Linked DNA regions of Homo sapiens: region 2 is linked to region 1. Evidence: fine-mapped expression QTL. A gene starts in region 1. The other region holds a variant in brackets. All regions are shown on one strand. Distances are from middle to middle.

Region 1 (5,370 bases):
GAATAGTCGTGTGTATCTCAGAGGGTCATTGTGAAGACCAGCTGAGATAGCGTCATGGCTAAGGAGAGTGCTTTGTAGTCATGAAGGTATCATTAGTAATATGGTATCAACTATTCTTCATTGCTACTTATTAGATTCTAGGCACTATTCTAAGATTTCACATCAGGACTTTTCAACAGCAGCACTATGACATTTTTTCTAGATAATTCTTTGCGGTTGGAGGGGGCTACAGGATATAGGATGTTTAGGAGCATCCCTCACTTCAACCCACTGGAGGCCAGTAGGGTCCCTTCCTGCCCCAATCGCTTGTACCAACCAGGATGTCAACCAGATATTGCCAAAGCTCCCCTGTGGGTGGGGTTGGGGACAGAATTGCCCCTGATGAGAGGCGCTGCCTCACGTGAGCTCTGTCATTTAATCTTCACAATTCTCCGAGGTGGGTCCTATTACTAGTCCTGGTTTACAGATGAGGAAACTGAGGCACAGGGAGGTAAATATTTGCCCCGATAATGCTGCACTAAAAATGCTTCTGAAAAAGGGAAGCTCGTAAACAATTGTCATCGAGGGTCTGGAAGAGAGCGCTGATGTAATTAAGGAGGGTGTCTCAGGCTGAGTATGAGGAAACCCTACTGCTAACCCTCTGTTGTTACCTCCCATCCCTCGGTCCTCTCGTCTGTGCTGTGGGAGTGGGGAGCGGCAGGTCTTTCATGCTCCTTCTGCTAGTGGAATTCCTGCTTTCTAGCATCCCTTCATTTCATCACTGGGTGCTTGTTTGCTCAGGATTATGCCTCATCTTCGTAAGTCAGACATGATCCTGGCGCTTCAGACACTCAGCTTTGCAACTCCCTCAAAATGGGAGCCACAGGCATGTGGGGGGTTGAGCTTTATCCTGCCCAGCCCCTCGCTCAGTGGGGGTGAACAGAGTGAGAGGCAGGACTTGAAAGTATTTGCCCAGAATCATACAGCAAGATAGCATCATGTGCAAGAGGCAGCCATGTGTACTCCGAGTCCACACTGCCATTCTTGTTGGCCTTTGCAGGCCGGCCTCCTGAAAAACTTGTCTCTGCTCACTTCTTCAGTCTCTTCTCCTTCTGTCTTCCCTTCAACCTACTCTAATCAGAAGATAGAGACAGAAGTAAGCAGTGAACTAGGCAGGACCAAACCAAACCAAGAGTTGTGTGTTGACCAGCCAATGAGGAAGTTATGTGTGGGAGAGAACATGGTAAACTATGTCTTCTTCTCCCCCATGTCTATGTCTGTGTGTGTGCGTGCATGCGTGTGTGTGTGTGTGTGTGTGGTGGGGGGAGGCTGGTATTTTATTTATTGGACAAATATTTATTGTCTAGCACTATGTGCCAAATACCAACTTAAGACATCTATAAGAATTTCAATTTCTCTGAGACCCAGGCTAAGATTTTCCATTAAATTCACATGAGTCTATTACATCTCTTTCTTTCATTTCCACCTGGGTAGTCAGGAAAACACATTAGACATATTTTTAAAAATTAAAGTTAACACAGAGTGTTACAAACTTTGAGAGAAGCAATAATTTTGAGTTGCACTAGTAATCACAGCAACAACCCCAAATACCACATTTATTGTCTCTTACAAAGCATCATAAGTTACATTAATCACTGGTTTTAACTACATTCTGTTACAGTTTGGACTCTAGTAACTAGGCAAATACAAACCAACAAAACAGCATATAAAACCACATGGAACAAAAAGCACACTACTCTCCAATATGCATTTTCTGGAGCCAATCTGATATTTAACTGGGATAAGACATTCTAAATAGCAACTGAAATATTGATATACCAGAACATCATGAAATAAATATTTTTCCCAACTCTGAAGACATTCCTTTCCTCATGCAAAATTTACCAAAAAGAAAAAAAAAAAGGAAAAAACAAAAAATAAACAAAAAACCAGGCTGGGCATGGTGGCTCACACCTGTAATCCCAGCTTGGGAGGCCGAGGTGGGTGGATCACCCGAGGTCAGGAGTTTGAGACCAGCCTGGCCAACATGGTGAAACCTTATTTCTACTAAAAATACAAAAATTTGCTGGATGTGGTGGTGCATGCCTGTAATCCCAGCTACTTGGGTGGCTGAGGCAGGAGAATCGCTTGAACCCAGGAGGCGGAGGTTGCACTGAGCCGAGATTGCACCATTGCACTCCAGCCTGGGTGACAAGACCAAAACTACGTCTCAAAAAAAAAAAAAAAAAACAAAAAAAAGAAAACCCTACAAAACCAACCCAAGTTCATAGTAACCAGAATTTTCAAATATTTCTCTGTGATCAGCACCTAAAAATGTATTTTAAAATGCTTATTTTAATGGCCAGGCACAGTGGCTCAGGCCTGTAATTCTAGCTGGGAGGCAGAGGCGGGTGGATCACCTGAGGTCAAGAGTTCAAGACCAGCCTGGCCAACATAGTGAAATCCCATTTCTAGTAAAAATACAAAAATTAGGCATCGTAGTGTGGACCTGTAGTTTCAGCTACTTGGGAGGCTGAGGCAGGAGAATCGCTTGAATCTGGGAGGCAGAGGCTGGAGTTAGCCAAGATGGCACCATTGCACTCCAGCCTGGGTGACAGAGCGAGACTCCGTCTCAAAGAAAAAGATATGCTCATTTTGATTTGGAATAAAGCTGCCTGGCCAAAAGATGGCTTGTGGCTAGAAGAGGAAGGACAAATAAGAAAACATAAATGGTTCAAATAGCACTCTATGTACAAAAACATGAAAAGGTGAAAATTTCTTAATTTCAACTTTTTGTTAGAAATTAGTACGTCACATATAGTCCTCCAGGGAGCGCTCTGAGGCTGTTACTAGTCCTTTAGTTAATAAAGCGAGAAGGCCCTGTAACTTAGCCTATAGGATTTTAGCGCTGACGCCTCCGAACCCACCCAGGCTTTCGCCTCGGAAAGGCACGGAAGAGGCCCCATGTTAATACCCGCAGTCTAGGACACGGAGTCATCCTCAGGGCCCTGTCACCCGTGAGTGAGATTACAGTCACAAACACAGGCTTCACAGCTCGCAGACGCACGGCCACCCTCATCTCCAGCGCCCTTCCCTTCCAGAGCGCGTGAGCCTGAATGCAGAGTCCGCTTCGGATCCGGTGCGAGCACAGCCCTGCCAACAAGGAGGCCCCAATGGTGCCCAGGAAGGGAGGGGCTGAGGGCGGGGCCGAACGTACGACCAGGGGTGTTTACGCTGCAGTCTGCGCCAGAGCCGCAGCGGTACATGGAAGACCTGGGCGGGCAGGCGTCCTTACTACGCGGATCATGTTGCGGCTGAAGTCGCGAACCGAGACGTAGCTGGGTGTCCCGACCCTGCATACAGCAGTAGAAGACCTGGGTGACCGTCAGTACCCTGTGAATTGAGGCACTCCTGAAGCCATGCGCTGAGACCTGGCTGGGTGTCGCTACCCTGCTGACGGCTGCGGAGGACCTTGGTGGGCATCAGTACCCTGCGGATTGTAGGGATGCTGAAGCTGCGCACTGAGACCTAGCTGCGTATCTCCCCTGCGGAAGGCTGCGGAGGACTTGGGTGGGCGTCAATACCCTGAGGATTGTGGCACTCTTTCCGCAGTTCCCTGCTCTAGGCTGCGGAGGACCCGGGTGGGCGTCAATACCCTGAAGATTGCGGCACTCCTTCCGCAGTCCCTTGCTCTTGGCTGCGGAGGACCCGGGTGGGCGTCAATACCCTGAAGATTGCGGCACTCGTTCCGCAGTCCCTTGCTCTAGGCTGCGGAGGACCCGGGTGGGCGTCAATACTCTGCGGATCGCGGGGATGCTGAAGCTGCGCGCTGAGACCTAGCTGGGTATCTCCCCTGCGGAAGGCTGCGGAGGACCTGGGTGAGCGTCAGTACCCTGAGGATTGTGGCACTCCTGCAGCTGCGCAGAGACCTAGCTGGGTGTCCTCCCCTGGAGAAGGCTGCGGAGGACCAGCGTGGGCATCAGTACCCTGCGCGTCACGGGGATGCTGAAGCCGCGCACTGAGACCTAGCTGGGTGTTCCTACCCTGTGGAAGGCTGCAGAGACCCGGGCGGGTGTCAGTACCCTGTGGATTGCGGCACTCCTGCAGCTGTGCAGAGACCTAGCTGGGTGTCTCCCTTGCAGAAGGCTGTGGGGGACCCGGGCGGGGGTCAGTACCCTGTAGACTGCGGCACTCCTGCAGCTGCGCACTGAGACCTAGCTGAGTGTCTTCCCTGCGGACGGCTGCGGAGGATCTGGGCGAACGTCATTACTTTGTGGATCCCGGGATACTGAAGCAGCTGAGACCTAGCTGTGCGTCGTCCCCTGTGGAAGGCTGTGGAGAACCCGGGTGGGCTTCAGTACCCTGAGGATTGCGGCACTCCTGCAGCTGCTCGCTGAGACCTGTCTCCCCTGCGGAAGGCTGCGGAGAACTCTGGAGGGCGTCAGTAGCCTGCGGATTGCGGCACTACTGCAGTTGCGCAGAGACCTCGCTGGGTGTCTCCCTTGCAGAACGCTGCGGAAGATTCAGGAGAGCGTCAGTACCCTGCGGACTGCGGCACTCCTGCAGCTGCGCAGAGACCTAGCTGGGTGTCTCCCCTGCGGAAGGCTGCGCAGGATCACGGAGGGCGTCAGTACCCTGCGGACTGCGGCACTCCTGCAGCTGCGCACTGAGACCTAGCTGAGTGTCTTACCCTGCGGTGGCGACGGAGAACCCCGGTGGGCGTGTTTACCCTGTGAATGGCCTAGCGCTGCTAAAGCCCCGCACTGAGACGTAGCTGGGTGTCCTCCCCTGTGCACGGCTGTGGAGGATCTGGGCGGACGTTGTTACTTTGTGGATCGCGGGAATGCTGTAGCTGCGCACTGAGACCTACCTGGGTGTCCTCCCCTGTGCACGGCTGCGGAGGATCTGGGCGGGCGTCATTACTTTGTGGATCGCGGGATTGCTGCAGCTGCGCACTTACATCTAGCTGGTGTCTTCCCCTGCGGACAGCTGCGGAGGACCTGGGTGGGCGTCATTACTTTGTGCATAGCAGGAATGCCGCAGCTGCGCACTGAGACCTAGCTGGTGTCGTCCTCTGCGGACGGCTGCAGAGGATGAGAGGAGGGAGGAGGCGTCGTTACTTTGTGCATCGCGGGGATGCTGAAGCCATGCACTGAGACCTAACTGGGTGTCCCCACCCAGTGGACGGCTGCGGAGAACCCGGGCGGGCGTCATTATACTGCGGGGGCGGGCGTCATTATACTGTGGAAGGTGGTGCTGCGGGAACTGTACAGAGACCTAGCCGGGTGTTCCTGCCCTGCGGATGGCAGCGGAGAACCCTGGGGGGCGTTTTTAGCCTGCGGATCGCCTGGTGCTGCTGAAGCCGCGCTTGAAGACCTAGCTGAGTGTCCT
Region 2 (5,370 bases), 360 kb before region 1:
AAAATAAAAAAAACCACTTTTTTTTTGAGACAGGGTCTTGCTGTCTCTCCCAGGCTAGAGTGATCATGGTTTACTGCAGCCTCGACCTGGCTGGACTCAAGCGATCCTCTTGCCTCAGTCTCCTGAGTAGCTGTGGCTACAGGTTTGTGCCATCCTGCCCAGCTAATTTTGGTATTTTTTCCAAGAGACAGAGTTTCCCTGTGTTGCCCAGGCTGGTCTTAAACTCCTGGGCTCAAGCAATCCGTCTGCTTCGGCCTCCCAAAGTGCTGGGATTACAGCTGTGAGCCACTGCACGGCCTCCATGCGGTCGTAACACCATGAGGTAGCCACGTTGGGCAGCTTGTGCGTTGTCAGGGAGACACTCTTCCTCAGCCCCTGGGCACCTCTGTTGAAAACTTCCTGGCTGTCTGGCAGGCTGGAAATCAGCTCTATTTGTTTTGCCCTGAAGATATGTTTTATTTATAACTCATTCTGACTCTGTAGAAAATAATTCAATAAAAACTCAATTGGTTTTCCACTAGCCCTGAGCAGGGATGAGGGATAGTATCTTATTTTATAACACATGTGATAATAAAACAGCCCTGGTCACATAGCCCAGAGCGGGTAAGTGCCTGCTGGCTGAAAGGAAAAATGCTGGCTCAGACCATTTCTCCCTTGCTGCTGTATGTGCTGAGAAAACCACTCCTGTCCTCTTTACTTTTCCATTTTAGGATTTTTTTTTTTTTTTTTTTTGAGATGGGCTCTCTCTGTCACCCAGGCTGGAGTGCAGTGGTGTGATCTTGGTTTACTGCAGCCCCCGCCTCCCGGGTTCAAGAGATTCTCCTGCCTCAGACTGCCTAGTAGCTGGGATTACAGGCATGTACCACCACGCTCAACTAATTTTTGTATTTTTAGTGGAGACTGGAGTTTCACCATGTTGCCCAGGATGATCTTGAACTCCTGACCTCAGGTGATCCACCCGCCTTGGCTTCCCGAAGTGCTGAGATTACAGGTGTGAGCCACCACACCCAGCCCTTTTTAGTGTTTGTTGTTGTTGTTGTTTGAGATAGAGTTTTGCAGTTGTTGCCCAGGCTGGAGTGCAATCGCATGATCTCGGCTCACTGAAACCTCTGTCTTCCAGGTTCAAGCGATTCTCCTGCCTCAGCCTGCTGAGTAGCTGGGATTACAGGCGCGCGCCACCACATCTGGCTAATTTTGTATTTTTAGTAGAGACGGGGTTTCACCATGTTGGCCAGGCTGGTCTTGAACTCCTAACCTCAAGTGATCCACCCGCCTCAGTCTCCCAAAGTGTTGGGATTACAGGTGTGAGCCATTTCTCCTGGCCAGGATTTTTTAATTGAAAAAGAAATACATGTACATGTTAAAAGATTCAAACAGAACATTAAACATACATAACGGAGAGCGGCTCTCTGTTTTCAATTTTCCCTGCGGATGCCACTGTTAATTCATGTGCTGGGCATCTTAAGTCTGTAAGCCTCCCCCATCTCCTGCTTTATTTTATTTTATTTTTGAACCCAGAGGGGTTTAAATCCTTAAATGGCTTCTGCCCGCACTTAGCAAGCTTGGCGCCTTGGCACTGAACTAACGACAGCTGTCCTAGCCCCTGTCGCCTCTTTGGAACCTTTTATGTGGATGGATTGTTGGGGCCCTCAAAGTCGGGAGTGCCATGGTGCCAGCTGGGGATCAAGACCGCGCGCCACACAGGGGGAAGCCGGCCCAGGCTGGGGCTCGCACCTCACGTGCCTCCCGGGCCCTGCGATCCTGGAGGCGCTCCCAGGCCGCGCGCGCCACGGTCACCCACCCACGTGGGGGGCACGACCGTGGGAGTCACGGGGGGTACCGTGAGGGTCACAGGGGGTGCCGCAGGGATCCACAGTGGGCTTCCGCGGGGCCTCCACCCCTGAGCTTCACAGAGGAAGTGAAATTTGAGCTGCGCGCCCTGAAGGACTGGTAAGCGGCGGGGACAGAACTGGGCCTCCTTCCAGCTGCGCCGCCCCAGGTGCAGAAGCTTTCCTCCTAGTCTCTGTTCTCTTGCTCCGGTCCCTCCCTCCCTCCTCGCTCCATCTCCCTCCATCTCCCTCCTTCCCTCCTCCTCTTCCTCCCTCCTTTCACCCCTCCTTTTTCCCTCCCTCCTCCCTCCTCCACCCTCTCCCTGTCCCCCGCTTCTCTCTCTCGCTGCCCCTCCCTCCTTCTTTCACCCCTCCTCCTCCTACTCTCCTCCTCCTCCCTCCCCGTCCCCGCTTCTCTCCCTCGCTCCTCCTCCCTCCTTCTTTCACCCCACCTTTTTCTCTCCCTCCTCCCTCCTCCTCCTCCCTCCCCATGTCCCCTCCCTCCCTGTCCCCTCTTCTCTCCCTCGCTCCTCCTTCCTC[T/C]TTTCTCCCTCGCTCCTACCCCCTTGCTTCCCTCGCGTCTCTTGCAAAACCCGGGACGGATCGGGGGCCCAGGCCTGGCCTCCGCGCACGCGCAGGAGCAGCGCCGGCTCGGCCGCCAGTAGGAAGCGCCAGCCCAGAGCCTGGGAAGTGGCCGCAGAGGCTGCTCGGCCCCGCTGCCCGCCAGGTCGTGGGCTCCCGCTCCGGGCCCGGGGCCACCGGCTGTGTAAGTGCAAAGCGGGGGGGCTCCCGGTCAGGCAATTCGGACCGGCTGCGGGGAGGGCTGCGCGGCTGGCCGTGGAGTCGGCGCGTCCCGCGGAGGGGCTCGCCCGGCCCTCACCTGTCCGGGCGGAGCCCGCCACACCTGTCCGGGTCCGCTGCCGGGCCGGGGTTCAGCGTGCACCTGCTCGAGGCGCCCTTGCTCCTGTTGGCGCTCTGCTTACATCTGTCCAAGGCCGTGTCCCACACCCGCTGAAGACTCGGCGGACACCTGTCCGGGACCCGGCCCACACCTGCTGCCCGGGCCGGCTCTGCTCTCCCGAGCTCGCGGCGGGGGTCCCCTTCCCCTCTGTGCCTCCGAGCTGTCTCCGCCTGGCTTCCCCTCCCGGGCCGTCCGCGGCGCTGGAGCCCCCCGCCCCTGGGCCTGGCTAAGCCCACTGGAGCCCGCGGGGTCTGGGACGCGCGGCTGGGGCCTGGGGCCCAGCACAGCCCACGCCCCCGGCGCTTTCCCCGCCCTGAGTTCCCGGACTTCTCCCCTAGCCCTTTCCCTCCTGTCTCCTGGATTCAAAGTGCCTGCGATCTAGCTGGGCGGCATCAGGCGGTGCTCTCTGGGATAAGCGCGCTGTCAACTCCAACTTATCCCAGGGAACCCTGGGGAGAGGAAGTCAGGCTACTGGCCTGTGGTCTTCTCCCTGTCAGCCCACCCCAATCCCCTCCACCCCTGCAGACCTTCCCAACGTGAATGTCTGTTAACCGAAAGTTTTCCCGTGTTAGGATGCGTTGTCTGTCTTCAAATGTTTCTATAGAGAGAGGAATTAAAACGCTGGAAGCAAGGCCCAGTTGAAAGGTATGGGGGAGTGACTTCCCTTCCATCCCTCACGGCCCCAGTTTAAACTGGTGACTGTCCCGTGTTTCTAAGGTAGTCATAGCTACCTATGACATCTTTATTTGTTAACCTGAAACAAAGCACCGGGTGGATGATGTTGGAGGCCCAGGAACATTGCCGTCCTAAAGATCTGGCTAGGTTTTGTTGTGTGTGTTTGTTCGTTTTTTTAATTGTGTGGAGGACTAGTAGTGTAGAGGGAAAAACAGTTGTCCGGAAACATGTAAACAATAAATGTTTCAGAAATCTAGTGTGTCAAAAATAACAGCTTCATTGAGCCTCGATTACCTGCCATAAAATCCACTGCTTTAAAGTGTACAATTCAGTGATTTTTCTTTTTTTTTTTTTTTTGAGACGGAGTCTCGCACTGTCGCCTGGGCTGGAGTGCAATGGCACGATCTTGGCTCACTGCACCCTCCGCCTCCTGGGTTCAAGCGATTCTCCTGCCTCAGCCTCCTGAGTAGCTGGGATTACAGGTGCCTGCCACCATGCCCGGCTACATTTTTTTTGTATTTTTAGTAGAGACGGGGTTTCACTCTGTTGGCCAGGCTGCTCTCGAACTCCTGACCTCGTGATCCACCCGCCTTGGCCTCCCAAAGTACTGGGATTACAGGCGTGAGCCACCATGCCTGGCCAATTCAGTAATTTTTAGTATATTCACACTTGTGTTACCATTGTCATTCCAGAACATTTTCATCACCCCAGAAAGAAACTCCATACCCATTAGCAGTCACTCCTCATTCCCCCCTCCGACAGCCCCTGGCGGCCACCGGTTTACTTTCGATATATATAGATTTGCATATTCAGGGCATTTCCTATTAATGGAATCATACAACATGTGGCCTTTTGTATTTAGCTTCTTTCATTCAGCACAGTGCTCTAAAGTTATTCATGTTGTGGCTTACATCAGCACTTTGTTCCTTTCTGTGGCTGAATAATATTCCATTGTATAGATTTAACATTTTGTGTATCAGGCAGTTGATGGACATTTGTGTTGTTTTCACTCCTTAGCTATTAAGAATAATGCTGTGCCTGGCCAGGCATGGTGGCTCACGCCTGTAATCCCAGCACTTTGGGAGGCCGAGGCGGGCAGATCACGAGGTCAAGAGATCGAGACCATCCCGGCCAACATGGTGAAACCCCCTCTCTACTAAAAATACAAAAATTAGCTGGGCATGGTGGTGGGCGCCTGTAGTCCCAGCTACTTGGGAGGCTGAGGCAGTAGAATCCCTTGAACCTGGGAGGCGGAGTTTGCAGTGAGCCGAGATCGCGCCACTGCTTTCCAGCCTGGCGACAGAGTGAGACTCCATCTCAAAACAACAAACAAACAAAAAACAAGAATAATGTTGTGCCTGTAATCCCAGCACTTTGGGAGGCTGAGGCGGGTGGATCACCTGAGATCATGAGTTCGAGACCAGCCTGGACAACATGGCAAAACCCTATCTCCACGGAAAATACAAAAATTAGCCGAGCATGGTGGCTCACGCCTGTAGTCCCAGCTACCCGGGAGGCCGAGGCATGAGAATCGCTTGAACCTGGGAGGCAGAGGTTGAGGTGAGCTGAAATCCTGCCACTGTACTCCAGCCTGGGTGACAGAGCGAAACTCCATCTCAGAAAAAGAGGAATAATACTGCTATGTACATTCCTGTACATGTTTCTGGTGTGGACACATGTTTTCAGATCTCTTGGATTGCTGGTTTTATAGTAGCTCTATGGAGGAACTACCAAGTTGAAGATACATATTTTTGCTGTTTTAATACCTGTATTAGCTTAGTCTCAGATACCAGAACTGGCTCAGTGGCAGGTGTCTTTTTTTTTTTTTTTTTAAAGAGTCTTACTTTGTCACCCAGGCTGGAGTGCAGTGGTGTGATCTCAGTTCACTGTAACCTCCTCCTCCCTGGG

Alleles and levels. Positions count from the first base shown, and alleles are read on the strand shown. Sizes are in standard deviations (SD) of each study's normalised expression.
In carriers of allele C in region 2, the expression in neutrophils of the gene that starts at base 3,236 in region 1 tends to be lower than with T alone (large effect, 0.77 SD a copy in BLUEPRINT).

Evidence for each region. PIP is the estimated chance that this variant, and not a neighbour inherited with it, causes the effect.
Region 2: its variant is fine-mapped to the expression of PEG13 in neutrophils (BLUEPRINT, PIP 0.95).

What each region holds. Positions count from the first base shown.
Region 1 is chr8:140,098,401-140,103,770 of GRCh38, reverse strand. It overlaps PEG13 (paternally expressed 13), which reads left to right and starts at 3,236. Exons shown (of 1, transcript NR_144431.1): 1 at 3,236-5,370. The region is part of intron 17 of TRAPPC9 (trafficking protein particle complex subunit 9); the gene reads left to right. RefSeq lists an enhancer at 3,480-3,979.
Region 2 is chr8:140,454,861-140,460,230 of GRCh38, reverse strand. TRAPPC9 (trafficking protein particle complex subunit 9) reads left to right here and starts at 2,487. Exons shown (of 23, transcript NM_001160372.4): 1 at 2,487-2,592. RefSeq lists silencers at 1,633-1,942, 2,063-2,302, 2,393-2,782, 2,893-2,942 and an enhancer at 1,715-2,233. The variant T/C (reference allele first, on the strand shown) is at 2,370.